7 linked regions of the Homo sapiens genome follow. The protein of the gene in region 1 interacts with the protein of each later gene in a pairwise test. Each region holds a gene or a part of one and is shown on either strand. Other genes may lie near its edges. The genes, in order: TEX11, FAM156B, CXCL14, SEPTIN1, TBC1D22B, LRCH2 and SCAF8.

Region 1 (3,500 bases):
TGGTGTGATCGTGGCTCACCACAGCTTCTACCTCCTGGGCCCAAGTAATCCTCCCACCTCAACATCTTGAGTAGCCGGGAATCACAGGCATGCACCACCATGCCCAGATAATTTTTAATTTTTCTGTGGAGACGGGATCTCCCTATGTTGCCCAGGTTGGTTTCGAACTCCTGGGCTCAAGCGATCCTCCTTCCTCGGTGTCCCGAAGTGCTAGGATTACAGCTGTGAGCCACCGTACCCAGTCATTTTTAATCTTTTATATTTTTACTTACCTTTTCTAGGTTTAGATATGTTTAAATACACAAATACTTATCATTGTGTTACAGTTGCCTGCAGTATTCACTACAGTAACATGAGTTATAGGTTTGTAGCCTAGAAGCAATAGGCTATACCATATAGCCTAGATGTGTAGTAGGCTATACCATCTTGTGTAAGTACACTCTATGACGGGGTCCTCAACCCCTGGGCCACGGACCATTACCTGTCTCTGGCCTGTTAGGAACCTGGCTGCACAGCAGGAGATGAGCCCTGGGCCAGCAAGCATTACCGCCTGAGCTCCGCCTCCTGTCAGATCAGTGGCCAGTGGCATTAGATTCTCACAGGAGCCTGAACTGCCCACACGAGGGATCTAGGTTGCATGCTCCTTATGAAAATCTAACTAATGCCTGTTGATCTGAGGTAGAACAGTTTCATCCCGAAACCATCCCCCCACCATCCGTGGAAAAATTGTCTTCTACAAAACTGGTCCCTGGTGCCAAGAAGGTTGAGGACCACTGCTCTATGATGTTGGGACAATGACAAAAATCACCAAATTACACATTTCTGGAATGTATCCCTGTCCTTAAGTGATGCACGCCTGTAATCTTTCTCTTTAGATTTAGGACTGATGATTTTTCTCTTTAGATAATAATATAGCTAAGACTGAATTTGCTTTTTCTTTCTTTCATACCACGCTAGTTATTCATTTTGAACTTTTTGCCCCCCAAATCCCTCAGTCTTTTTTAAGTATTTATTTATTTATTTAGACAAGGTCTCACTCTATTGCCAGGCTGTAGTGCAGTGGCGCTATCCTCCTAGGTTCAAGCGATCCTCCCGCCTCAGTTTCCTGAGGGAATATAGGCATGCGCCACCATTCCTGACTAATTTTTGTATTTTTGGTAGAGACAGGGTTTCACCATGTTTCCCAGGCTGGTCTCCTGAGCTCCTGAGCTCAAGCGATCTGCCTGCCTACTGGCCTTTTTTCTAGATTTTTCTTTCTTTCTTTTTTTGAGGCAGAGTCTCACTCCATTGCCCAGGCTGGAGTGCAGTGGCATAATCTCAGCTCACTGCAACCTCCACCTCCCAGGCGCAAGCAATTCTTGTGCTTCAGCCTCCTGAGTAGCTATGACTGCAGGCATGCCAGGCTAATTTCTGTATTTTTAGTAGAGACAGGGTTTTGCTGTGATGGCCAGGCTGCTCTCGAACTCCTGGCCTCAAGTGATCCACCCACCTCAGCCTCCCAAACTGCTGGGATTATAGGCATGAGTCACCACTACTGGGCTTCACTGATCTTTTATATATATATATTTTCATTTTAATTTCGTTTATTTCTATTCTGGTCTTTATTATTTCTTTTCTTCAACTAACTTTGGGTTTGGTTTGCTTTTGCTTTTCTAGTTGTTTAAGATGCATCATTAGGTTGTTCGGAGTTTTTCCTCTTTTTTGATGTAGGCACTCATAGTGATAAACTTCACTCTGTATCCCATACGTTTTGGTATGCTGTGTTTCCATTATCATTTGTTTCAAGAAAATTTTCAATTTTCTTCTTCTTCTTCTTTTTTTTTTTTTTTTTTTGAGATAGAGTCTCCCTCTGTAGCCCAGGCTGGAGCGCAGTGGCACGATCTCTGTTCACTGTGACCCTGCAACCTCCGCCTCCCGGGTTCAAGCGATTCTCCTGCCTCAGCCTCCCAAGTAGCTGGGATTACAGGCACCCACCATCACACTTGGCTAATTTTTGTATTTTTATTTTAACTAATTAATTAATTAATTTTTTGTTTGTTTTGAGACAGAGCCTCACTCTGTTGCCCAGGCTGGAGTGCAGTTGCACCATCTCGGCTCATTGCAACCTCTGCCTCCCAAGTTTAAGTGATTCTCGTGCCTCAGCCTCCCAAGTAGCTGGGATTACAGGCGTGCACCACCACTCCTGGCTATTTTTAAAAAAATATTTTTAGTAGAGACCGGGTTTCACCATGTTGGCCAGGCTGTTCTGGCCAACATGGTGAAACTCCTGACCTCAGGTGAGCTGCCTGCCTCAGCCTCCCAAAATGCTGAGATTACAGGCATGAGCCACCACACCTGGTCCTTTTTTTTTTTTTTTTTTTTTTTTTAATACAGGACCTCTCTTTGTCACCCAGGCTGGAGTGCAGTGGCATGAACGTATAGGTATGCACCACCACGCCTGGCTAATATTTGTATGTTTTGTAAAGACTGGATTTTGCCATGTTGCCCAGGCTGGTCTTGAACTCCTGAGCTCAAGTGATCTGCTTGCCTCGGCCTCCAGATTACAGGAGGTGCTGGGATTACAGGTGTGAGCCACGGTGCCCAGCCTCTATATTTTCTTTTTCTATTATATTTATGATGATTGTTAGGGAGGTAGACATTAGCTAATTTGTTTCATCAAGTCTTCAGAATATAGTTCCAATGTATACTCAATACCAGCCCTGTCCAGTAGAAATATAATGTGAGTTAGAAATGTAACTTAAAATTTTCTAGTAATCACGTTTAAAAAGTAAAAATAAATAGGTGAAATTAATTTTTAATATAATAATAATTTTAATGCTATAGCCCAGCATATTCATACATTTTTGTTCCAGCATATAATCAGTATACAAAATTGCTGAGATATTTTACTTTCTTATTTTAAACTAAGTCTTTGAAACCCATGTGTATTTTACAATTAAAGCACATCCCAATTTGAACTAGCCACATTTTAAGTGCTCAGTAGCCATATATTGCTACCATATTAGAGAGTGCAGATCTAGACTAAAAAGTTTAGTAGTAAAACTCAGTCAAGATAATTGGCTTTCATTGAATCTCAAAGGACTTTATTTGTAATCTTCCCTGAACTATCTTTTCCTTTAAATACAACAATGGGATCCTCAGATTAAGAATGACAGAGTTATTAGGAAATATCCCAAGACAGGGCCACATAGTTTAGAATCATGAGCATACTTATTTTACAGCCTGTACAGAAATCTTACAGATAATCAGTGAGATAATCACTGATGCCACCTGGTATGCACCTATTAGGGGGAATAGTACAGTTTATGGCCGGGTGCCGTGGCTCACGCCTGTAATCCCAGCACTTTGGGAGGCCGAGGCTGGTGGATCATGAGGTCAGGAGATCGAGACCATCCTGGCTAACACTGTGAAACCCCGTCTCTACTAAAAATACAAAAAATTAGCTGAGTGTGCTGGCGGGCACCTGTAGTCCCAGCTACTCGGGAGGCTGAGGCAGGAGA
Region 2 (3,948 bases), about 18 Mb from region 1:
AAAAGTTAAAAAAAATTAATTGGTTATAGAAGCAGTTACAAAAAATAAACAGTTCCAGGTGCAGGGGCTTAAACTATGATTAAGAGATAAATGCAGGGGCTTTTAGGTACCTTCCACCGAGCACATTCCCGAGCTGTTGGTACAGCCTGCCTCAATATCTTACCAGCAGGTGTATTCTTGGATGTGCTTGGACTCAGCTTGCACTAGTTATTCCCTTAAGGGGGATAAAGGGGGCTGCAAGTGAAGAAACTAAAATGGAGTCTGTCCGGCTCTCTCTGCTAGGAAAGAGTCACTCAGGTTAAAACAAGGTAGGGTATCACAAATGATTCACTTAGACGGGAAGTCTGTCCTCCTAAAAGTAGCTAGGCACAGAGAGAAACATTCCCTGTTCAGCTGGCTGAGACTTCCGCTGATTAAAAAAAAAACAAAAAACCCTGCCCCATAAATCTCCCCACTGAAACCGGTGTACTCCTTCCTATGAAAGTAAAAGACACCCCCGCCCCGCCCCGGTTACCCCAACAGTGTGATTTCCACTTCTGGGGCGCTCTCCCTAAGGCAGTAGCCTGAATAATTTCAATGTATTGGATTGTTTGGTTTCTGTCTTTACCAAGGTGCATTTATCATTCATGCAAAAACAGTAAAAAAAAAAAAAAAAAAAAAAAAAAAAATGAAACAGCACGTGTCGGTTCTCAGCGGCGCGCCCTAGCTCAAAACTCCAGCCAATCACAGGAGAAGTCGGCCGCCTCCCAACCCTCCAGCCCAGTTCCCACGTCCCTCGCCCGGGAAGTCACGTCCGCTACAGGGAGTGTCTTCCCATGGCCTCCGGAAGCATTCGGCAGTCCACAAGCCACGCTTCAGAGAAGCCGCTCCGGGAACGCCGCGGCGCACCTCCGGAAGGGATGACCTCCACGCCTTCTCCCCTCGCAGTCCACCCGAGCGGCGTGGGTCGCGAGAAGCCACCCAACCGCTCCGTCTTCCGGCTCCGGCGGTCCGCGGCAGCCAATCAAAGGTTCAGTTTCTCAGCGGCGTCGCATCCCTGTGACGTGAGCACATCCTCGCCGGCGCCCCCTTCCGCGCTGCGGCGCCTCTAGCCCGCCGGAGGGCGGCTCCTCTCGATGGTCTTAACCCTTCAATTACGAGCGGGCGGCGCTGCGTTTCCAGGGCAGAGGAAACGAGGCGCCGCGTTGGCGCTTGGACGGCGGGAACCGGCTCCGGAGCGAGAACGCGCGTGAGAGAGCCCGAGAGAGACGGAGAGCGAGCGAGCGCGCGGGAGAGACTGAGAGCGGGGGGGTGGGAGAGAGACTTCCAGAGAGACAGAGCGAGAGGCCGAGACGGAGGCTGTCCCTAGCACAGGCCAGGGTGTCTTGGGACTCGAATCCCTGGGTTGGGCTGGCCGGGAGTGGGGCTTTCGAAGGAAGCGGGTGATTTTCCACGTCGTCCATATCTCCCCGGTGTGGGAATGGCGGTCGTGCACTCTGGGGGTGGCGTTGTTCTCGTTCCCTACTTGGGGGTGGCCTTTTTCAGCGGAGAAAGAGGATGCCGCGGGCATTGGTAGCCGGCGGGACTACACTTGGGCTAGGATCAGTGTTCAGCGGGTTCAGAAATCACCGTGTCCTTGGCATCACCTCCCTCCCCACCTCCTCTCCCATCGCACAGCAGGAGACAGTGACTGGAGGGTTTTCAAGGAGGACTGCATTGCCCCTATTGAAACAAACCGTCCGACAAACCCTTTCTCCGACGTGTGACAGAGGGACGGTCGTAATGTGAAATACGACTAGACATGCGTTTAATGGGCGGTGTGATTGCTGCATTCGTGCGCAATGAATGGTCCAGGCCATTTGTGTCCAGTAGCCGCACAAGCTGCAGGGTCTCATGTTTAGAGAGGGAGGGCCTCTCCGCCGTCCACCTTGCTGGAGTACAGGCGACCCTGGGCGGTAGCCCTCTCCGCCATCAGAAATGTGGTGCTCTGAGTAGCCACAGATTCCCATCTGCATCTCCAATACCATTTCCCTCTACTCACTGACCCGTTGGGTGCGTTGGATTTGTGCGTGGGTGTGAGGGTAGTTTGGTGTGTTTGCTTGCAAATGGAAAAGCGAATGGCCTTGGTTGGCTGAGCTTATCAGGGCACTAGCAGTGGAGAGAGAAAGGACTACTGTATTCTTAGGAGCAGAATCTCAACAACTTCCTATAAAACGGGCAGTGTGTCTTACCTGGAATGCTTTGGCATTTAATAAAATGTCCTGTGAATACTTTTCATAGGGAAGCACTTTGTTTTTACTGTTTCTGGTTGGACAGTGGTTACATTTCAAATCGTAGTTCAGAATTCGTGAAATACCCAAATTAAATCTCTACGTGGCAGTAATCCATTTTCTTTCCTTGGTGTGTGGTTGGAAGATTAATTTGAGATAAGTGTTCAGTTCTGGGCTGGGCAGTCGTGCCGGGCACGGGAAATTCAGGTTCTTTAAGGGAAAGGCCTGATGTGCTAAGACGAAATCTATACCGTGTGTAGCCGCTTATGAGAATATGAAACTAAGGAGAGCCACAGGTAAGTATACGTCTATGAATGCGAATTAAAACGGGTGACAATATAAAGAGAGATTGGTGTCACAAATGGTGGAGTGACTTTTGTATTTCAGCAGACCTCAGTGAGAAATGGTCACCACCACTCCCTAGATGTGTGACCTTGAGTGAGTTGCTTAACCTCTCTGATCCTGTTACCTCATCTGCAACTGGGGATGAGAATATATATCATAGCATGCCCTGGGAGAAGCTGTTCCTGACCACCTGGGCTATGGTGATTTTGACTTCCTCTGTGTCAGAAGTACCCCCGTCTCATGCCTGCCATAGTTGTCTTTTTGTTTTGTTTTGTGATTTCAGATGGACTCACCCTGTCACCCAGGTTGGACTGCACTGGCCTCAACCTCCTGAGTTCAAGTGATCGTCCCACCTCAGCCTCCCCAGTAGCTGGGACCATAGCTGTGCAGCATCATGCCTGGCTAATTTTTTAAGTTTTTTGTTGAGATGGTGGTCTCGCCCTGTTGCTCAGGCTGGCCTCAAACTCCTGGGCTGAAGCAGTCCTCCCACCTCAGCCTCCCAAAGTGCTTGGATTAGAGGCGTGAGCCACCATTCCTGGCTCCTTGGACAATATTTTATTCCTCAGATTAAGACACGTCCTTGGGATGGGGCTGCATTGGATAATTCACCGAAGGCACCGCTGAATGGAGTGGGCCCTCAGTAAATACCTGGAGGAATGTGACCTGGCCAGTGAGGTTATTTTCTTTTGTAGGTGAAAGGTGTAGCAGTCACTCGGCCTACACCCACAGCATCGACCTTGTGAACCCAGCGACCTGACTGCCTTGGGTGAGTCTAGGCAAGCTCCATTCTCGCCAGAGCGGACTTGCTCCTTGTCTTCCTCTTGCTGCTCTGGCCACTCTTCTTGGTCCCTCCCCTGTTCCCTCCCCGGACTCCCGGTTGTACTCCCGCTGCTTTTCTGTGTACTCACCTGCTGGGAGACCCCTGATGCCAGCACCACGCTTCACTGCTGTCTTCATTTTCTTCTTTCTTTCTTGAAAGTGGGCATTGCTGGCTTTACTGACTACCTGTTCTTTTGTTACAAAGCTGCTAAAAATTGTATCTCTTCCGCTCCAGACCCAGTAGGATAGAGATGATCTGTGTAGGCATCAAAAATGTAGAACATCTGCAAGTCATGTGTAGGACAGACTCTTTCCTCAATCTGTGTGGCGTTGCGTGGCTAGGAGTTAGATTCCTTTGCCATGACATGGCACAAGACTAGGAGCACGGTTTTCAGCACCCAGAGAACTTGCACAGACCTTAGACATTTTGCTGTAGGATTTTGCCACTTCTAGAAAAAAGTCCATGTGGCCGGGCGTGGTGGCTCACGCCTGTAATCTCAGCACTTTGGGAAGCCGACGTGGGCAGATCACAAGG
Region 3 (4,122 bases), on another chromosome or scaffold:
CTCAAGGCAGCAAGAAGTGAAGGGCAGACAGGCCTCAAAGCAACAGAGTGGTCCAGGGACAGGAGTCCCAGTTCTGCAGCCGTATATACTGAGGACCCTCCTGGCCTAGTCACCTGCTTCCTAGCTCTGTGACCTTGGACAAGTTATTTCTTCTCTCAGAGCATGTTTCCACACCTGTCAAATAAAGAAATTAAAAGTACCAACTTGGAAGAAAAGTACCAATTGGTAAGAATCAAAGTAATAGATAAATTAGACATAAAACGATGGTGCCAATAAGTAACATTTCCTGGGTACTGACAACATGTATGATTTCTATAGTTCTCACAGCCACCCTATCAGAAACACTGTGATGATCTGCACTTTACAGATGATGAAACAAAAGCTGAGAGCGGTAAAGTCACTTGTGCTGGAAAGTAGTGAGGAGGGAATTTCTGCCACTATGGCTGGGCTCACACCACTATACCTCGCATTCTGGCACAATGTCTAGAACATGGGAAGGCCTTCATCCAGATGGTTACCACTGTCATCGCTCTCCACTAGGGCTCTCTACCTGGCTTTGGAGAGTAGTGTGAGAGTGAGGACTCCTCCTGGTTCTCCCCACCACCCAGACACTCACACAGCCACCAGGCCACTGACCCACTTTAAGGAGCTTTCCTTTGGGAGTCACCAAAACTCCTCCCCAATACCCGTCCCCACCCCCGCATACACACACATACCCTCTTTGAGTCAGTTCCAGTGATCACAGTCAATGACTTTGCTGCTGGACAGTCTATGACAAGCCCCTGTCCAGAACTGGCCTTGTGTTCTGGCCCAGCAGGGGCCCTTGGGGGTCAGGCCTGCAGGCACTCACACTTGGCACCTGCTCCAAAACCCTTTCAGGTCTTTGAGGATCTGAGCCCTGGGCCTGGGTCTCCCGCCGGCTCGGAAAAGCTGGCCTGCCGGGCCAGAGAGAGAACCACACGATTCAGAAAAGCAGTGCCCTTCAGCAGCCTCTCCACCGTCTGGGCTCCCCAAAGGCAGAGCGGGACGCTGGAAATGTGTGCGCGCTGTGGTATGGGTGTGCAAGTGTGCGAAGGCGGCGTGTTGTGTGAGCGAGAGGGTAGCGGATGTGTGTGTGCGTGTGCGCGCGTGGCTCCGGGTGTGCGCCGCTGCGATAGCGGGTCCTTTCCCGGGGCGGGCGACGGGCGGGCTGGGAAGGTCTCCTCCCCTCACCACATTGAGAAATCTCAGTGAGTCACCGAGTGGTTCTGCATATTAATGAGCTCGCTCGCTGCGAGGGCAGGAGCGGATTTAAAAGAGGCCAGGGCGGGCGGAGGGAGGCTGTGGAGAGAGCGCGGAGACAAGCGCAGAGCGCAGCGCACGGCCACAGACAGCCCTGGGCATCCACCGACGGCGCAGCCGGAGCCAGCAGAGCCGGAAGGCGCGCCCCGGGCAGAGAAAGCCGAGCAGAGCTGGGTGGCGTCTCCGGGCCGCCGCTCCGACGGGCCAGCGCCCTCCCCATGTCCCTGCTCCCACGCCGCGCCCCTCCGGTCAGCATGAGGCTCCTGGCGGCCGCGCTGCTCCTGCTGCTGCTGGCGCTGTACACCGCGCGTGTGGACGGTGAGTGCGGGGAGCTCCCCTTGTCGCCGTCTCGTCTTGTCCTGTCCTGGGGAACCCAAGCGCCAATTTCTAGGCATCCTGGGATCCCGCGGGGGGTGGTCTGGGTGGGCACCAAGGTGGTCGAGGGGCAGGAGACCGCCTAGCAACTAAGCCGTTGCCCCGCGCTCGCTCGCAGGGTCCAAATGCAAGTGCTCCCGGAAGGGACCCAAGATCCGCTACAGCGACGTGAAGAAGCTGGAAATGAAGCCAAAGTACCCGCACTGCGAGGAGAAGATGGTTATGTGAGTTCTCGCTCCTCACCTTGAGGGGGTGCGCACTGCTGTCAACCCAATGCCAGGGCACAGCCTGGGCCTGGGTCGGGCTAACAAACATTTCTCTCCGACTTTGTCAAGGCCCTGGAAAAGCCTTTGTAATTGCCCAGAGAGTCCTTAGGACGCTGGCGAGACACTCTGGAAGACAGTCGGGAAGGGGGGTCACTGTCCCGCTCCGGAACAGCGCCTCCAAGTTCACCCTTGCTAGGATTCAAATGAGCAGTCTCCCTATTTGTACCATGGGCCACCCACTCTGCTAGGGCCATCAAGGGTTAAAGGGTTCCCTTGTGCCAACTCAGAAAACCTAGACTGAAATCACTTAAAACACACTCACACCCAAACTGTGAGGCGTGCTGCCTTCCTGTCACTGGATAGAGGACTAATGCAAACACTATCTTAAATCCTGAGTCTCCTTCAGAGCCTTGTTCCAGTCAGAGACAAGTGGACCGCAAGTTTTTGGCTCCTAGAGATTTTATTTTGAGAACGCTCCACGAGCTTCCCTCACCGACTGTACTCCTTGTGGGTCCCCAATACGGAGCAGTACTGCAGAAAGTGCTCTGCTGGGGTTAATGTGCCACATGGCTGGAGCCCTGCTTGGTGGGGATGTGGGGAATGTTGGAAAAACTGGGGCAGAGTGAGAGAACACTTAGTTTCTTGCTCCTCCGCCTTCCCAATTAACCACTTGAGGCCAGCACCGCTGCCTCCTCATCAATATGCTCTTGGCCAGGAAGGGAGCCCTTGGCAAAGCGGCTACCAAATATTTGCCACAGACCATTGGCCCCTCTTCCCCTCCCCCAGAAACAGGACGCACTTTATTCTCAGTCTGGGCAAGTGCCCTCCACCAGCTGGCCCCCACCGGCGCAAAGGCCTTCACAGTGTCTGCGAAAGCAGTGCACACCCCTACCCAGCACCCCCCATCCCCGTCTAGGGGCTACACTGTCAGGCTGAAATTAGGGGAATTCAGAAATCCACTGGAACTGAGCTGACCCCACTGCCTTCCTTCACAGACACCTAAATTAACTTGCTTGTCCCTACCCCTTGCCTTGCAGACCAAATTCAAAGAAAATACCCAAAAATCCTTTTGGGTGGGGGCCAAGTGTCAAATGAGCTGGGAAAGGAGCTCCAAGCTCCTCAGGGCTTCCAGTTTGGGGGCTAAGAATGACAGGGGAATTCCAAGTTAAATCTCACTCGTCTAAGAGCTGAAAACCACTCTATTAACCAAACAAGTTTCTGAGACCTTGCAGGGGAAGAAAGCAGGGTAAAGGATGCAGTGATACCTAAAAAGGACAGAGCCCTCAGTAAATAGGCTTGCTCTTTTCCTGGCTAAACTTTTCCACATATAGAGAAAAACTATAGCTAGGCAAGTGTGAGAAAGGCTTTACGGAGCCTTGTAGAAACGTGCAGGGGCCTCAGGAGATCAGCACACAATCCAATCACCCTCTACTAAACCTCTAACCCACCCCCTAGGGCCTCCCACTCCATCCCTGAGGGCTGGGGGCTCCTCTCCCCCTCCACAATCCTAAAACTCTCCAAATCAGATGAGGGGCCAGCACTTTTGCAAAGCAGGTTTTCAGCCACAAAGGCTGAACAAAAGCAAATTTTCCAGCTTACCCTGAGTCACCCAGAAATCTCTGCTGAGGCTGGGGGTGGGGGCAGGAGTAGGGGCGGGGGGAGAGGTCCGCTTTGCAAGTGGGAGTCCTTGCACCCAGAAGGATCCAGGAGAGTCCGAATTCTAGAAAGAGCAATTTGTGTCATAGGTCCATGGAGCTCTCACCAAAACCCTTACCCCCACCGCCAGAACTGTGGAGGAGAGGGTCACAGGACTCAGAATTTCTGATAGTTGCTGGAGTCACAAATCCCTATGTCTGCACTCCACAACCGATTTTCATAATCCCAGTATTATGACGTGGCATTTGAGCACTGTAGTGAGAGGGCTGAGTGACCCTTCCTGCTCTCCCTTCCTGCTCTCCCTGACCTTCAGGATTTGGGATGCACAGCCTGCACACTGACCTAACTGAGAAAGGGTTTTTATCAGGCATTACCACGTCCTTTCCTTCAGAATGCTAAAGCAGCCTTGTAGGCAGAAAGAGAAAAGCATTTGCTAAATTCCTGCAGGGTGACTGGGCACAGTGGGGGAGAGAGACAACCAGAGTTCACTCTGAAGCCTGGCCTGTGCTCAAGGCTAGAGGAATGACCCGGAGTCACAGAGGAG
Region 4 (4,242 bases), on another chromosome or scaffold:
CTCAAGTGATCCACCCGCCTCGGCCTCCCAAAGTGCTGGGATTACAGGTGTGAGCCACCACGCCAGCCAGGTGCTGGGAATCTGAAGGAGGGACAATGACCCTGCCTAGGGTAGGTGGAGAGATTGCATAGAGGCAGAGCCCTTGGAAAGAAACACTTGAAGGATGAGGAAGAGTTTAACTGATTCAGAAAAAGGAAAAGCTCAATGTGGGTAGAGAGCCAAGGACGTTTGGAAGAGTGAGAGATGGGGTGATGAGGCCAGCTGAGGGAGGCTTTGGCAGTCAGGCCAGAATTCAGACTTGACTCTGAGTTACTGGGGAGTTCCTGAAGGATTTTGAGCAGTGGAGTTCTTTGGCCAGGATTCTGAAGGAAAATCTCTCGGGCAGTGGTGTCCAAAGACCTGGAGTCCTTTTATGAATCCATTGTCTGAGCTGGAAAATGTATGGCTTCACCCACTCCCAATCCCATCATGGCTTCTGGTCCACTTTTTTCTTTTTCTTTTTTTGAAACAGCGTTGGCCTGGCATGGTGGCTCACGCCCGTAATCCCAGCAGTTTGGGAGGCCGAGGCGGGCAGATCACGAGGTCAGGAGATCGAAACCATCCTGGCTAACACGGTGAAATCTCGTCTCTACTAAAAACACAAAAAAATTAGCCAGGCGCGGTAGCAGGTGCCTGTAGTCCCAGCTACTCGGGAGGCTGAGGCAGGAGAATGGCGGGAACCCGGGAGGTGGAGCTTGCAGTGAGCCGAGATGGCGCCACTACACTCCAGCCTGGGCAACAGAGCGAGACTCCGTCTCAAAAAAAGAAAGAAAGAAAGAAAAAGAAACAGGGTTTTGCTGTGTTGCTCAGGCTGGAGTGTAGTGGTGTGATCACAGCTCACTGCAGTCTTGATCTTCTGGGCTCATGCAATCCTCCCACCTCAGCCTCCCCAGTAGCTGGGACTACAGGATTGTACCAACATGCCTGGCTAATTTTTTAATGTTTTGTAGAGATGGTAGAGGGGCACGTCCCTCTGTTGCCCAGGCTGGTCTGGAACTCCTTGGCTCAAGCTGTCCTCCCTCCTCCGCCTCCCAAAGTGCTGAGATTACAGGCGAGAGCCACCTTGCCCGTCCTGGGAACTGTTTTCTAATCAGCTCATCAAAACCTTCATCTCCCCTGCTAACAAAGGGAGCCACTTCCTTCCTCTCTGCACATACCCCATGTCTCACCACGATGATGGAGCTACAGTGGGACTTGGAATCCAGATGTGTGAAGGATGGAGGGTTGAAGGTACGTAGACAGGTGATGGGCAAAGGGGTCCAGGAGGTGGCAACCCCAAGTGTTCTTGGCCTTGGCCTTCCCCACCTCTCTGGGACTGGGCCAGTTTGAGCATCTCAGCTGCCTCTTCTGCCCGCCCCCTTGTTAGCCGCACTCAGCTTCCTGCCCCACCAGAGGAAGTGGGGAGAGACGGCAGGTGCAGTGATGGCTGGCGGAGTCATGGTGAGTCCTTACACCCAGAAACCTGGGCATCTCGGCCCCCAGCCCCCATGCCTGGGGTCCCCAGACCCCACTGACTCTTCCTAGCCCAGGAACTCAAGTGATCCTGGGGACCCTGCCTGCCATTGCCAGCAGCCTCATATTGTCCACCCCCATCCATAGGACAAGGAGTACGTGGGTTTTGCTGCCCTCCCCAACCAGCTGCACCGCAAGTCTGTCAAGAAGGGGTTTGACTTCACGCTAATGGTGGCAGGTCTGGGGGTTTTGGAGAGGGAACTGCGGAGGGGATGTCCTTAGGAGGCCCTGGCTGTCCCCTCCCCTGACCAGTTGGGCCTGTTCTGTCCACAGGGGAGTCAGGCCTAGGGAAATCCACCCTCATCAACAGCCTCTTCCTCACCAACCTCTATGAGGATCGCCAGGTGCCAGAGGCCAGTGGTAAGACCCTCCCCACCCTCTTGAGGCAGTAGCCCCTGTCCCCAGGTTACACCCTAGTCTTTTCCATCTGGGGACTCAGGTAGTTGACTGCTTTTTTTCTGAGACTTTCCTCCCCTGGGAAATGGGTGCAGGCAACTGTGATATTGACAAAGGAAATTAATTCTGCCTCAGAGCCTCCCCGGATCCCTGACCTCTCCCCCATCCCACAGCTCGCTTGACACAGACCCTGGCCATTGAGCGCCGGGGCGTAGAGATTGAGGAAGGGGGTGTGAAAGTGAAGCTGACCCTTGTGGACACACCTGGCTTTGGGGACTCAGTGGACTGCTCTGACTGGTGAGGAAGAGGAAAGGGGACAGAGGCTCAGCCTTTCACAGTGGCGACTCCCTGGAGAGTTACAGGACTGGTTTGTGCTGGCTCCCTATCTCAAAAGGTGGTGTCTGTTTCAGAGGGCCACTGGGTCCCTGTGCTTCTTGATGACTCACCTAGGCCCCCACCAGTTCCCCTTAATGTCTTTGGAGGGAGCCAAAGAAATGACATTCTACTCCCACAGTCCTGGCTAGCCTTGCCCCCTGCCCTCTGGCCTTTGATCTCTGACCTCACATCCTCTCCCCACACCCAGCTGGCTTCCGGTGGTGAAATTCATCGAGGAGCAATTTGAGCAGTACCTTAGGGATGAGAGTGGCCTGAACCGGAAGAACATCCAGGACTCCCGAGTCCACTGCTGCCTCTACTTCATCTCACCCTTCGGCCGGGGGTCTGGTGGGGGGATCCTGGGGGCTGGCGCATTTAGGGAGGGCTGGGGGGTCTCTGCCCCCTGAGGCTGGGCAATGACCAATCCCTGGGTGCAGGCTCCGGCCCCTAGATGTGGCCTTCCTCCGGGCAGTACACGAGAAAGTCAACATCATCCCAGTCATTGGCAAAGCGGATGCTCTGATGCCCCAGGAAACCCAGGCCCTCAAGCAGAAGGTGTGAGTGATGACCTCTGACCTTTGACCCCATGTGAAGCCAAACCTGATTTCAGCTTAGACTTCTTTGATCTTGAAGTGGCCTTTCTGGAGCATGGTGCATCAGGCTAGATTGTAGGAGAAGCTTCTGAGGAAGGCGGGTGGTAAGCCGCCAGCATAGCCATGTCTCTGAAGGCTCAAAATAGGCTACATATGCAGCCCCCGGGCTAGATGCCTGGCTGAGGCCTATTTGAGGGCAGGAGCATAGACATGAGAACATAGTGACTTCCCTCTGGCCCCCACCCCGTGTCTTCAGAGCCCTTTCCCACTGTTTCTGCTTATATCTCTCTCGGCCTCTCTTTCTCTCTCTTTTTTTTTTTAGATAGAGTCTCACTCTGTGGCCCAGGCTGCAGTACAGTGGCAAGATCAGAGCTCACTGCAGCCTCGAACTTGTAGGCGCAAGTGATCCTCCTGCCTCAGCCTCTTGAGTAGCAGGGACTATAGATGAACACCACCATGCCTGGCTAACTTAAAAAATATTTTTTTGGCTGGGCTTGGTGGCAGACACCTGTTAATCCCAGCACTTTGGGAGGCTGAGGTCAGTGGACTGCTTGAGCTGAAGAGTTTAAGACAAGCCACGGCAACATGGTAAAACCCCATCTCTACAAAAAGTACAAAAACCAGCCAGGTGTGGTGGTGTGCACTTGTAGTCCCAGTTACTCAGGAGGCTGAGATGGGAGGATCACCTGAGCCTGAGAGGTTGAGGCTGCAGTGAACCAAGATGGAGCCACTGGACTCCAGCCTGGGTGATAGAGTGAAACCTTGTTTCAAAATATATGTGTATATTTGTTGTAGAGATGGGATCTAGCTATATTGCCCAGGCTTCTCCTGGTCTCTTAATGTCTGCCCCATCTTAGAATCTTGTGTTTCTCACCATCTATGTCTCTGAGATTTTGTTTTTGTCTTCCTGTATGTCCATCTCTCCCCATCTCTGTCTTTCATGTCTTTCTCTCTGTCTCTGACCACCCAGTATCTCTGTGTCTCACTGTCTCTGGTCATGAAATGTCTGTCATTGTGGCCCGTTTCACACTGTCTCTATATCTGTTTCCCCTGAGATCCGGGATCAGTTGAAGGAAGAGGAGATCCACATCTACCAGTTCCCCGAATGTGACTCTGATGAAGATGAAGACTTCAAGAGGCAGGATGCAGAGATGAAGGTGTGGGAAACAAAGAAGGAAGGCAGGCCGGGCACGGTGGCTCACGTCTGTAATCCCAGCACTTTGGGAGGCTGAGACGGGAGGATCCCCTGAGGTCAGGAGTTCCAGACCAGCCTGGGCAACATGGCGAGACCCCACCTCTACTAAAAATACACAAATTTGCCAGGTGT
Region 5 (3,500 bases), on another chromosome or scaffold:
TAGTTTAGTCTAAGGCAGTGTTTTCCTTCCCATTCCACACCACAGAGCACATAAGGAATGATGACACTGCAGATGACACCACAAAGCACAAGGCTGCAATAAATGGAGGTGGTTGCTCTCCACAAGCCCCAGAACCCCCAGCTGCTCCAAGGACTAAAAGGATCAATATCCCCGCACATCCTGTACCCGGTTCTTGGCCCACCAGTGTGCCCTGCACAATGGTGAGAAGCTCTGGCCTAAGGCAATCCTGCCTTTGGTGGCTGCGGTTCCTTTGTGCTCCTACATTTCCCACCAAAATCAACCAGTTCTTAATTCTGCCAAGATATGACTGAAATAACAAACAAAGACTCAAACTGAACTCTGTCTTGTTCTTGACATTTCTACACTAGATAGTGGGTAGGGGGAATAAGCAGTAGAGGACTCACGTATATTGAGTGCTTCATATGTATAAGGCATATAGGTCACTTTTACATATGATCTCTCATTTGATCCTTAGAACATATGGTAGGAATGTATAACTATTTTACAGACAAGAAACTGCAGCTCAGGGAGGTTAAATAACTTGCAAGTGAGAAGTGAAAAACCACCTTAGGTAAGCCTGACTCTAAAACTCTTGTATTACCACAAGCAAAACTCAGTTTTTAATTCTAGCTGTGCTTACATGACTGTTTCATATTCTTTACACGGCTGGGCCTTAAAAAGTAGTAGTCACAACAAAAATTAAACAGTGACTATCAACCAACCAGCACTACTAGAAGGTTTACAAAAACAACTTCCACGAGGCAGTTGGCTGGGATGCCTAGTGTAACGAGGGGACTAGAAAATGCAGACACACACTGCAAAGCTGAGACAGAGGTAAATTTCATATTACCTATTTACAGACAGATGCAGTGACTATCAACCAACCAGCACTACTAGAAGGTTTACAAAAACAACTTCCATGAGGCAGTTGGCTGGGACGCCTAGTGTAACAAGGGGACTAGAAAATGCAGACACACACTGCAAAGCTGAGACAGAGGTAAATCTCATATTACCTATTTACAGACAGATGCCGGCAGGAGAAAACCTCCTCAGGGAGAATGCTCTGGGCTGGGCGGGGGAGGTCCTGGCTGCACAGGGCAGCTCATCATGGATCACGGTAGGGGCCTTCCTCACACTGGAAACCTCTGGAGACCCTCCATCACAGTGTGTAGACACCTTCCACGGCCTGCAGCTGTGGCCACCTGGTCCAGTAACACTGAATGCCTATCTGTGCATGGCACTGAAGGTTCATGCTAGAGCCCAAATCAGTGATGGAAAATAACTGTGCAATGATTGCAAAGACCTTACAGCCACGAAAAAGTTCCCTCAGAACATGAGCCAGGGTACACTCCAGGGCTCTGATGTTCTTCTACTTCCTTTTCATCCTGTACCAGCTCACTGCTTTAACTCTCACTGCGATGACAAAGCTTCCCTCTCCAGCTCCCAACATACTTTATAAAACCCATTAGGGCAACATTAAACATAACCATGAATATTTAAAGGAATACACTGAGAGTCCCCAAAAGCTAATAAAACCACCAACACATCAACCATTACTGTGGCCAGTTTCCCGAAAAGAAACAGAGAGGCCTCTACTTCTACCCCACCCAACCTGATGGGACCTGCCTGATGGTCAGGAAGCTGGGACCTGGGGCCTTTAGGCACATTTGCTCCCTCCCTCAGGAACAGGAAAAGACAACCTTATGCTAGTGGCTGTTCCCTAGGGCTGAGAAAGTCAAACCACAGTGCCAAACAATTGTGAAATTCAGCCACTAACAGCTTTAAATACATCAGTTACTATTTCTAAACCTGACCAGGCCTAAAGCAATGTGAAGCAATCAAACCAGAGAAGTTGTGGACTCCACCACAGGGAAAGGAAGAAGAGAAGAGGAGAATGGCAAACAACACCTGGGTGTCAGAGAGTGAAGGCCCAGGTCACCAGACTGGGCAGCCACCACTGTGGGAGGGGCAAGTATAGCTTGTGACCACTCAGGCTTAATGATGTCACATCTCAGGCTTGAGTTTATTTACCGCCCAGTTGAATATCTACCTGAGTGAGGCCCCAAAGAAAAATCGCTTTTATTTAAAATGCACGCTGCTGAGAAGGCTGAGGCTATGAAGGGAGCAGGAAGGACTTACTAGAGTTTCTGGACAGCTGGGCATCACTGCTGGACTTTATGACCTTGTAGTTGGCAGGGACGTCCGATGTCGTTGACTGGGACCGTTCTGGTTTTACTCTCAGCTTGCTGTGGTTTTCTAGAACTTGGGCTGCAGTTGCCAAAGCAACTTTTGAGTTCAGAGTTTGGAAAGAAGGTGAGGAAAAGTCCTCTTCCTCATCATCGCCAATGTCCCAAGCATCACTGGTATTCCGTGCAAACTCATGAAAACTGGAGGCCTTCTTATTCTTCAGAGGAACTGTGTTGACTTTTGATCGTTCTTTAATGAAACTTCAAGAAAGGAGACACGATTACCAAGGAATGGCCTGACACATCTGACCACCTACATTTGCTTATTATTGTAATATTAATAAATTACAAACTACCACATACATAATCATTAGCTTCTTCAAACAAAAATTGCCCACATCCATTCTTCATCTAGATACATCCAGACCAGCCTGAGATCGCAGAGACAGATGTAGCAGAGACAGCAATGGTCACCAAATATCCCATGTGCTCTTGTATACTTCCTGGCCCCCATACACTTAGGTGAGGCCATATGACCAATACCGGCCAATGGACTGAGGAGAAATGAGGCGATTACTTCCAGGCAAAGTAGAGAATAGGTGTCAGTTCTGTATAACCTCTCTCTTTTTTTTTTTTGAGACAGAGTTTCTGTCACCTAGGCTGGAGTGCAGTGGTATGATCATGGCTCTCTGCAGCCTTGACCTCCTGGGCTCAAGTGATCCTCCCACCACAGCCTCTTGAGTAGCTGGGACTACAGGTGTACACCACGATGCCTGGCTAATTTTATTATTATTTTTTGTAGACACAAGGTTTCACTATGTTGCCCAGGCTGGTCTTGAACTCCTGGGTTCAAGTGATCCTCCCACCTCGGCCTCCCAAATCGTTGGGGTTACAGGTGTGAGCCACCATGCCTGATCCATAGCTTTTCTTCTATCATGATGCACTGGCAAGATGGTAGAACCTCCTTCAGCCTAGGTAACTGAGTGGCTATGTGGAGCAGCAGTAACTATGTCGAGGAGCCTGCCCTCTGCCCTTACCCCACCCCCATTTTAGACATGTAGCATGAGCAGGAAATAAACCTTTACTATGTTAATCCACAGAGATTTGACAGTTGATCTGCTATCACTTAGAGCAGCACATAAACTACTGGCAGAAAACAAGATAATTTTAGGTAGTCCACATATGTAGCATTAAACATTAAGTCCCAAAATAAAAAAGTTGTTCCATTTTTTATTCTGTTAAAAGTTCTTCTGCTGGCCTTGAGAAGAAAGTTGAAGTTTGGTGCTACTCTGT
Region 6 (4,045 bases), about 44 Mb from region 1:
CACAAATCAATTTAGACAAGTTGTAATTCTTTCCTGTAATCTTTTATAAAGTAGAGCCTATGGCAGATATACTTTTTTGAAGTGGAGATTTCTCTTAAAAAATGAGGCTGTTGACACATTGCTCAAATTGAAATAGGTGTAAAAGAGATACATAGGATACTCAATGATAAGTGAATATGTCCAAGCATTCTGATAGTTTTCTTCATCAACTTTACTGAATACTAGAGAAAAAGATTTGAATGACTATGATTGAGAGTGGAGAGGGTAGTGGGTAAAGGGATGGCAGTGGCCTAAATGGTTGGGTGATAAACTCGGCTAGATAGTCTGGGGTTAAATTATGGAGGCCTGGAATGCCAGATAAAGGACTTTGAACTTTCTTCTCTATGTCTTCTACATTAAAAATATCTTCAGGTTCTGAGAATGAACTCCTAAAATTCAAGATCGATTGGCTTCATAATACCCAGGGTTAAATCTTCAGAATTCCATCTAAAAACAAAACCTGTATTTCAGAAATAACTTAAGATTGTTTGATGATCAAAGAGATTTTCATCAGGCAGTACTGACACGATGAGAAGAAACTAGAGGTATTTTGGAGATCTTGGCACAACTTCAAAGAGTGATAGAACAGAATGTGGATAACTCTTCCAAGTTTTGGAAGGCAACAGTCTGGCTGAGACTTACATACATTGAAACGAGAGGCTTCCTTGAAAACATTTTACAAATCTTTTCCTATTATAGAATTCTAAACTATGGAGAAATTCATATATGCCCCAAACTCAACACTGCACTCATTTCCCTCCCCAAGTGACTCCCCAGCGTTTCTCTAACACTGGTAAAGGATTCCTGAGGCATTTGCAGTAAGCTTCTCAATAAGCTGCCCCATAGCCCTTCTAAGTGCTGTTTCTGTATATTCTGAAACGAATCCCTTTCATCCCTAGCTCATATATTTGTTTCTGTTTTGCAGAACGGAAACAGTGAAGCAACTTAGAGAGTTGGGGACATACAGCCCAGATGACCTATAGTTCGCCTGGTGTCGTTTCGCAAGACTTTGGTACCCAAAGCAGCAGAACCGGGATTTAGCATCCTTCTTATCATACATTTCTTAAAGCAAGCGTTCTGCACTTTCAAACATCATCTTTTCTCTATCCAACACCTCCTCCCAGCCCGCCCCCTGGTTCCTTCCCACTCTCTACCTCGCCCCCCACCCCCCGCCCCCAGTCTGCGCATGCGTCCTAAGAACCCCTTACACTCGCGGCACAGGCTGACAGTATTGTCGGGGGCTATTCTCTCTCCCAGGAACATGGCGGCGAGTCAGGGAGGAGGCGGTAACAGTGGGGGCGGCGGTTGTGGTGGAGGTGGAAGTAGCGGTGGCTGTGGCACGGCTGGAGGGGGAGGTGGCGGGGCTGGAGGGGGAGGCGGCGGCGGCGGCGGGACCCTGGTGGTCCCCATCCCGGTACCGACTCTTTTCGGTCAGCCGTTCCCCAACGGGCCGCCGTGGAACCCGGGGAGCCTGCAGCCTCAGCACACCGTGAGGAGCCTGGACCGGGCCCTGGAAGAGGCGGGCAGCTCCGGCATCCTGAGCCTCAGTGGTCGGAAACTCCGAGACTTCCCGGGCAGCGGCTACGACCTGACGGACACCACCCAAGCAGGTGACAGGACGGGGGGAGGGGAAGCTGGCTGTGAAGGAGGAGGTGCGGGGAGTGGGTGGCTGCGTGGCTGCGTTGTTGGACTCTGCGGGTCTGGGCGGGTGCGCGGGGACCGCCAGACTAACAAAGTCGGGGCAGCCCGTTCTCCTGAACGTGAGGGGCGAATCAAGCAATAGGGGAGGGGAGGAATGCTGCCTGAAGGATGTATAGAAACTGGTAGGATGTTAGGGGTGAAAGAGCATCATTGTTAAAGCAAGTTTCCCCAGTTTGGGTGGGAGGGAGTCATTGACACCTTCCTTAATGCACTTCTTTCAACTCTCCTGGATCTTCCCGTCTTTCCCGGAAAACCAAACCCAACCAAACTAAACGAAACACAAAAATCATAATCTCTACATATTCCTTAAAGGCATACGTGCCTGAAAGAATGGCATATCCTTTTTCAGAGTACAGCAGCAGGATTGCCATGGTTTTTCTGTGTGGTTTAATCATCCTACGATATTCTTGGCTTCTTTCTTGTCACGTATGCCTTTAAAGACTGAGATTTTTCATTTTCCTGGTGTTGAGAAGGTAGTGGTGGTTAAATTAGTATTTGCTGCAGTGGTAAATTAAATCATCAATCACTTACATGTCTGCTTACTAGAAGAAAGCTAATCCTTGTTTTGAGTTATCTTAGAGTCTTAATTTTTATAGTAGAAAGCCAACAATTTTAAGGGTATTTTTGAGAAAAAATTATCTCCATTCTTTATGGAGTTGTGGATTAAAGGTTTATCACTTTGGGTGAGAAATTGGCTATTGTAATGTTCTTCATATACTCTCTGGTAGTCTTTGTTGTGGCTGGCATTTTTTGTTAGGGACACACTCTCTTATAAACCAATGCTGGATTATTTTAGATATGTCTTGATTTGATGAAAGGTTTTTTTTTACTTTTTATAATCTTTAAATTTGTTATTTATTTCTGTTTTCATCTGCTTTGCTGAAATAAATCTGGACAAAATTATTTTAATAGATGTCGTCATTTTGAAACAATATAGTAAGTAAATTCACCCATAATGAGGAGTAGTAAAATACCACTTATTTTCAAAACAAGACAATTTCAGATGTATTCAGTTTTTAGATCTTAAATCAAGGTATTTGTGTTGGAACAAAGTGGGGAGAGGAGGAAAACCTAAAATTGAAGCTTTCCACCCAGTGATTCTTTTAGCAATGATCCTAAGAACTATGAATGTGTAATCGACCACTGATTTTATATTTTGTAAAGCATGTTGGAGTATTTACTCCTTCACTCAGAACAGATTTCCTAAATAATATGTTCACATATTCATGACTGTTAGCAAGATATTATGCAACTTGGTGTGTTCTTCAAAGGCTTCAAGTAAAACAGTTTCAGACTGCATCATTATAGTGATTTTTTTCTTTTCTTCTTCTTCCTCTTTTTTTTTTTTTTCTTATTGTTCTTTCTAACCTATAAAGGATCCTTCTACCTGCAGGACAAAGTTTAAGCATCCTAGCTTGGCATTCAGGACTTTCATTGTTGGGCTCCACTTTATTGTTGCAACCTTATTCCCCAAAATGCTCCCACATAGAATCCTCTCTTCCAACTAGGTCAACTCTCTGTCTCTCAAATACATTTTGTGCATTTCTGCCTCATCTTTGTACAAGATCATCTGTATGCTTGGGATTTCCCTCTTTTCTCCGTCTATTTAATTTTATTGAAGCCCCAGCTCTTCCAAGAAATTGTCTCCAACTCCCTTAGTCCACAAGAATCTCCTGTTTCTTTGAATTCCCATGGTACTTATTGTCTTTACCACTTACTTGGCAGTGCTGGTTTTATTTTCTTTTTATGTTTCTGTCTTGCTATCCCTGAGAAGAAATAGAGCCCCTTAAAAGGCAGGGTGTAAGCCATATACTTGTTCAGTCTTCTTATTATATATCCCCTTTATTGTATTTGATAATATTTCTCATAAATATGAATATCATCTGATGCAGTTACAGCCTTTGGCTTTTAAGCCTTCAGTTGGTTTTCTGAGGCAAGCTTCAACACAAAGCAGAACCATATCTGTTCATGGTAAACATTCATTCATCATAAGTTTCATTTTACTTTTTCTCTTCAGTTGAATGAGCATTTCTTGTGGGAACATTTCAAAAATCAGAGTAAACAAGATCTTGTGCTGCTCTTTTTTTTCATTTAAATTAGATATCTTTGGGTGACTCATTTGCCATTTGTTTTTGATAAAATTTAGCCACGAAATTTTTAGGGGCAGTATTTTTTAATGTAGAGAGACCACTATTCATTATGTGTAAATGACGGCAGGTACATTGGAACTGAAGAAAAATAGAGTGTGTTTGAGATTATACATACATATGTACATACATACACACACATACATACAGGAACACAC
Region 7 (3,500 bases), on another chromosome or scaffold:
AGACAACTTTTTTGTTATTGTTTTTTCCCTCACTTAGAAGTGACAGATTTGGTAGAAAGAAAACATTGTCATTAGAAGTAAAATGAAAATTTTTTGTAGATCACCAAGAAAACGAAGGTCTAGGTCACGGTCTGGCTCTAGAAAGCGTAAACACAGAAAGCGATCACGCTCCCGCTCAAGAGAAAGAAAGAGGAAATCATCACGGTCGTATTCAAGTGAAAGGAGAGCCAGAGAAAGGGAGAAAGAACGACAGAAAAAGGGATTACCTCCAATTAGATCTAAAACACTAAGTGGTAAGTAACATATATCTGCAACGCTTTGGTTTCAATTAATATTTAAAAAATAGTTATCTGCTACAAAGTCTCTCAGCCAAATTTTATTTTCAGATTAAGGTTAAAAGTGGTTTGGTAAATGAGTAATGTCTCTGGTTTTTGTAACATGATAGAGAAGAGAAGAAGAAGGAAGAACAGATTCCATTCAAATACCAAGGTCATTGAGGGTTGATTTTTTGTTTGTTTTTCAAATGCAAGTTAGAAAATACATATTGACTGAAAAAGCAGACTAGGCTGGTATCTGTAGCATGGACACAGTGACTTCTGTCTATAGTATTCTTAGCAATTATGGCCACCAGGTCTGTAGGAATAATTATTAAAGGAAGCATATACTTAGCTATATCTAATTTTTAAAGTAATTATAATGTTAATGGGTTAGCACTACAGGATAATTCCTACTGTACAAACCTTGCACGGTTACATGTTAGTCAATTACGTATGATTAGAACAGATTCGGTAGTGGTGGGGTTTGGTTTTGGAGCAGGTGTGGGGAGGGTTCACTTGGTAGGAATGTTAAGCACAGCAAAATAAGTTTTAATTAGTGCCAAATTTTGCCTAGGGTATTCTTGGTGGGTTATGACTTTTAAGATGAACTAAGAGTTTACATATGGGCAAAGAAGTACATAAAATCGAACAAATTGTCATTCTTTCCAAAGAGCTAAACATTGATTGTGTTATCTAATTTCTGAAGACTTCCACGTAAATTCCCTCTGCCAGGGAGTTAGAAAAATAATTGGTATAATTTGTGCTACTAGAGCGTCTTGGAAACCCAGGCCTATAATAAAAGGCAATAGCCATCTTCTTACTAAGTTTTGGGAGTTCTTGTAGGCCTTGGCTATCTTGCATGAATTTTACCTGGTTGTGAGAGCTAGTGTCAACCTGATAATATTGATTATCCTTGCTCTAGAAGTTTGTTTGTCCCTTAGGGTGATGGTATACATCTAAACATTTTAGTGCTGGCTGATAAAAGAAATAATGTCAAACGTTTAACCACAAAAATCTCTACTGTGCTTTCTCGCATGATTACCATTAAGACGTTCAGAATTATCTATTTATTTGCCATTATTAGAGTAAGGATTTTATATGGAGTCGCTCTCATTTAATTTCTCACTTAATTTGTCATGTTGTTGATTTCACTGTTTACACAGTTTTTTTTTTTTTAACCATTTAATTTTCTATTTCATTTTCCTTTAAGTTCTGGGATACATGTGCTGAACGTGCAGGTTTGTTACATAGGTACACAGGTGCCATGGTGGTTTGCTGCACCCATCAACCCGTCATCTAAGTTTTTTCTTTTTTTTAAATTATACTTTAAGTTCTAGGGTACTTGTGTACAAAGTGCAGGTCTGTTACATAGGTATACATGTACTATGTTGGTTTGCTGCACACATCAACTTGTCGTTTACATTAGGTATTTCTCCTAATGCTACCCTTCCCCCAACCCCCCATCCCCCTGACAGACCCCAGTGTGTGATGCTCCCCGCCCTGTGTCCAAGTGTTCTCATTGTTCAATTCTCACCTATGAGTGAGAACATGTAGTGTTTGGTTTTCTGTCCTTGTGATAGTTTGCTGAGAATGGTAGTTTCCAGCTTCATTCATGTCCCTGCAAAGGACATGAACTCATCCTTTTTTATGGCTGCATAGTATTCCATAGTGTATATGTGCCACATTTTCTTAATCCAGTCTATCATTGATGGACATTTGGATTGGTTCCAAATCTTTGCTACTGTGAGTAGTGCCGCAGTAAATACGTGTGCTGTTTACATAGTTTTTAACTGTGGAATTTATTTTTTATTTCTGTTTTATTTTCATGGGCACAACAAACAGCAAAAAAGAAAATAAAAAGCACGTGAATAAAAAACGCATAACCAAATACAGGCATACCTTGTTTTATTGCACTTCACTCCATTGTGCTTTGAAGATACTGCCTTTTTTTTTTTTTTTTTTTTTTTAAATAGGTTGAAGGGTTGTGACCACCCTATGTTGAGTACCTCTCTTGGCACTATTTTTCCAATAGCAGGTGCCTACTTTGTCTCTATGTCAGCTTTTTTTTTTTTTTTTTTTTTGCAAAAAGTATTTTAAAATTAGGGTATGTACATTTTTGTTTTTAGACATAATGCTGTTGCACACTTAATAGGTTACAGTGTAGTGTAAACATATCTTTTGTGTGCACTGGGAAGAACAACTTATGTGCCTTAACCTTACTGTGATATCTGCTTTATTGTGGTGGTCTGGAACCAAAGTTGCAGTAGCTCCAAGGTATGCCTATACAGTGAAAAATAATCTCTGATTGTTTACCTCACAACTCTCCTTATTCAAAAGCAGTATCAATTTCCTGTGGTTTGTATTCTTTCTTAACACATTTTAAACATATGGTAGTGTTTTCATACGATTTATTGGTCTTTAGCATGGATTTTAGAACATAAGGTTTTCGTGAATAGTCTAGGGGATATAAAGCACCAGTGAATAATAACATTCCAGGAATCAAGTGTCCCTTCTGCATGGGATGACAAGAATCATTAATGCTTTCTGGGGAAAATAATGGAGTTTCCTATGGGAAAAATGTGTAGAGAGATAATATTGAAAGAGATGGGAAATACAGAACAGAGTTCAGGGAGATTAAGGCAGCTGGAATATGCAGAACCAGTAATAAAGAGGAAAAAGAGAATGCCAGGTGCAGCGGCTCACACCTGTAATCCAAGCTACTTTGGGAGGCACAGGCCAGCAGATTGTTTGAGGCCAGGAGTTTAAGACCAGCCTGAGCAACAAAGTGAGATGCCATCACTACCGCCAAAAAAAAAAAAAAAATTAGTTCGGCAAGGTGGTTCACACTTCTGTAGTCCCAGCTACTCAAGAAAGAGGTGGGAGAATCACTTGTGCCTAGGAGGTTGAGAAGCTGCAGTGGGATATGATTGTGCCACTGCACTCCAACCTGAGGAACAGAGCAAGACCCTATATCAAAACAAAACAAAACAAAAAACAGAAGAATCCTTAAGGCTGAGTATACTGGCTCAAACCTATAATCCCAGTACTTTGGAAGGCCAAGGCGGGAGGATTGCTTGAGGCCAGGAATTTGAGACCAGCCTGGGAAGAGCAAAACCATGTCTGTACTAAAAATAAAAACTTAGCCAAGCATGGTGATGGTGTGCCTATAGTTTCAGCTTTTGT

What was found.
Region 2: the proteins of TEX11 (region 1) and FAM156B interact in binary tests that used the Homo sapiens proteins (3 or more experiments, as listed by UniProt).
Region 3: the proteins of TEX11 (region 1) and CXCL14 interact in binary tests that used the Homo sapiens proteins (3 or more experiments, as listed by UniProt).
Region 4: the proteins of TEX11 (region 1) and SEPTIN1 interact in binary tests that used the Homo sapiens proteins (3 or more experiments, as listed by UniProt).
Region 5: the proteins of TEX11 (region 1) and TBC1D22B interact in binary tests that used the Homo sapiens proteins (3 or more experiments, as listed by UniProt).
Region 6: the proteins of TEX11 (region 1) and LRCH2 interact in binary tests that used the Homo sapiens proteins (3 or more experiments, as listed by UniProt).
Region 7: the proteins of TEX11 (region 1) and SCAF8 interact in binary tests that used the Homo sapiens proteins (3 or more experiments, as listed by UniProt).

What each region holds. Positions count from the first base shown.
Region 1 is NC_000023.11:70,898,712-70,902,211, reverse strand, and holds part of TEX11 (testis-expressed protein 11), read left to right. Parts: intron 1-3,500. UniProt on the Homo sapiens protein: Regulator of crossing-over during meiosis. Involved in initiation and/or maintenance of chromosome synapsis and formation of crossovers.
Region 2 is NC_000023.11:52,896,182-52,900,129, forward strand, and holds the start of FAM156B (protein FAM156A/FAM156B), read left to right. Parts: upstream 1-1,148; 5' UTR 1,149-3,360; intron 3,361-3,948.
Region 3 is NC_000005.10:135,576,192-135,580,313, reverse strand, and holds the start of CXCL14 (C-X-C motif chemokine 14 precursor), read left to right. Parts: upstream 1-1,322; 5' UTR 1,323-1,535; coding exon 1,536-1,599; intron 1,600-1,774; coding exon 1,775-1,880; intron 1,881-4,122. UniProt on the Homo sapiens protein: Potent chemoattractant for neutrophils, and weaker for dendritic cells. Not chemotactic for T-cells, B-cells, monocytes, natural killer cells or granulocytes. Does not inhibit proliferation of myeloid progenitors in colony formation assays.
Region 4 is NC_000016.10:30,379,762-30,384,003, reverse strand, and holds the start of SEPTIN1 (septin-1), read left to right. Parts: upstream 1-1,442; 5' UTR 1,443-1,461; coding exon 1,462-1,479; intron 1,480-1,638; coding exon 1,639-1,729; intron 1,730-1,824; coding exon 1,825-1,911; intron 1,912-2,120; coding exon 2,121-2,244; intron 2,245-2,530; coding exon 2,531-2,665; intron 2,666-2,759; coding exon 2,760-2,877; intron 2,878-3,970; coding exon 3,971-4,072; intron 4,073-4,242. UniProt on the Homo sapiens protein: Filament-forming cytoskeletal GTPase. May play a role in cytokinesis.
Region 5 is NC_000006.12:37,278,272-37,281,771, reverse strand, and holds part of TBC1D22B (TBC1 domain family member 22B), read right to left. Parts: intron 2,469-3,500; coding exon 2,161-2,468; intron 1-2,160. UniProt on the Homo sapiens protein: May act as a GTPase-activating protein for Rab family protein(s).
Region 6 is NC_000023.11:115,231,297-115,235,341, reverse strand, and holds the start of LRCH2 (leucine-rich repeat and calponin homology domain-containing protein 2), read left to right. Parts: upstream 1-1,245; 5' UTR 1,246-1,300; coding exon 1,301-1,649; intron 1,650-4,045. UniProt on the Homo sapiens protein: May play a role in the organization of the cytoskeleton.
Region 7 is NC_000006.12:154,809,916-154,813,415, forward strand, and holds part of SCAF8 (SR-related and CTD-associated factor 8), read left to right. Parts: intron 1-99; coding exon 100-293; intron 294-3,500. UniProt on the Homo sapiens protein: Anti-terminator protein required to prevent early mRNA termination during transcription. Together with SCAF4, acts by suppressing the use of early, alternative poly(A) sites, thereby preventing the accumulation of non-functional truncated proteins.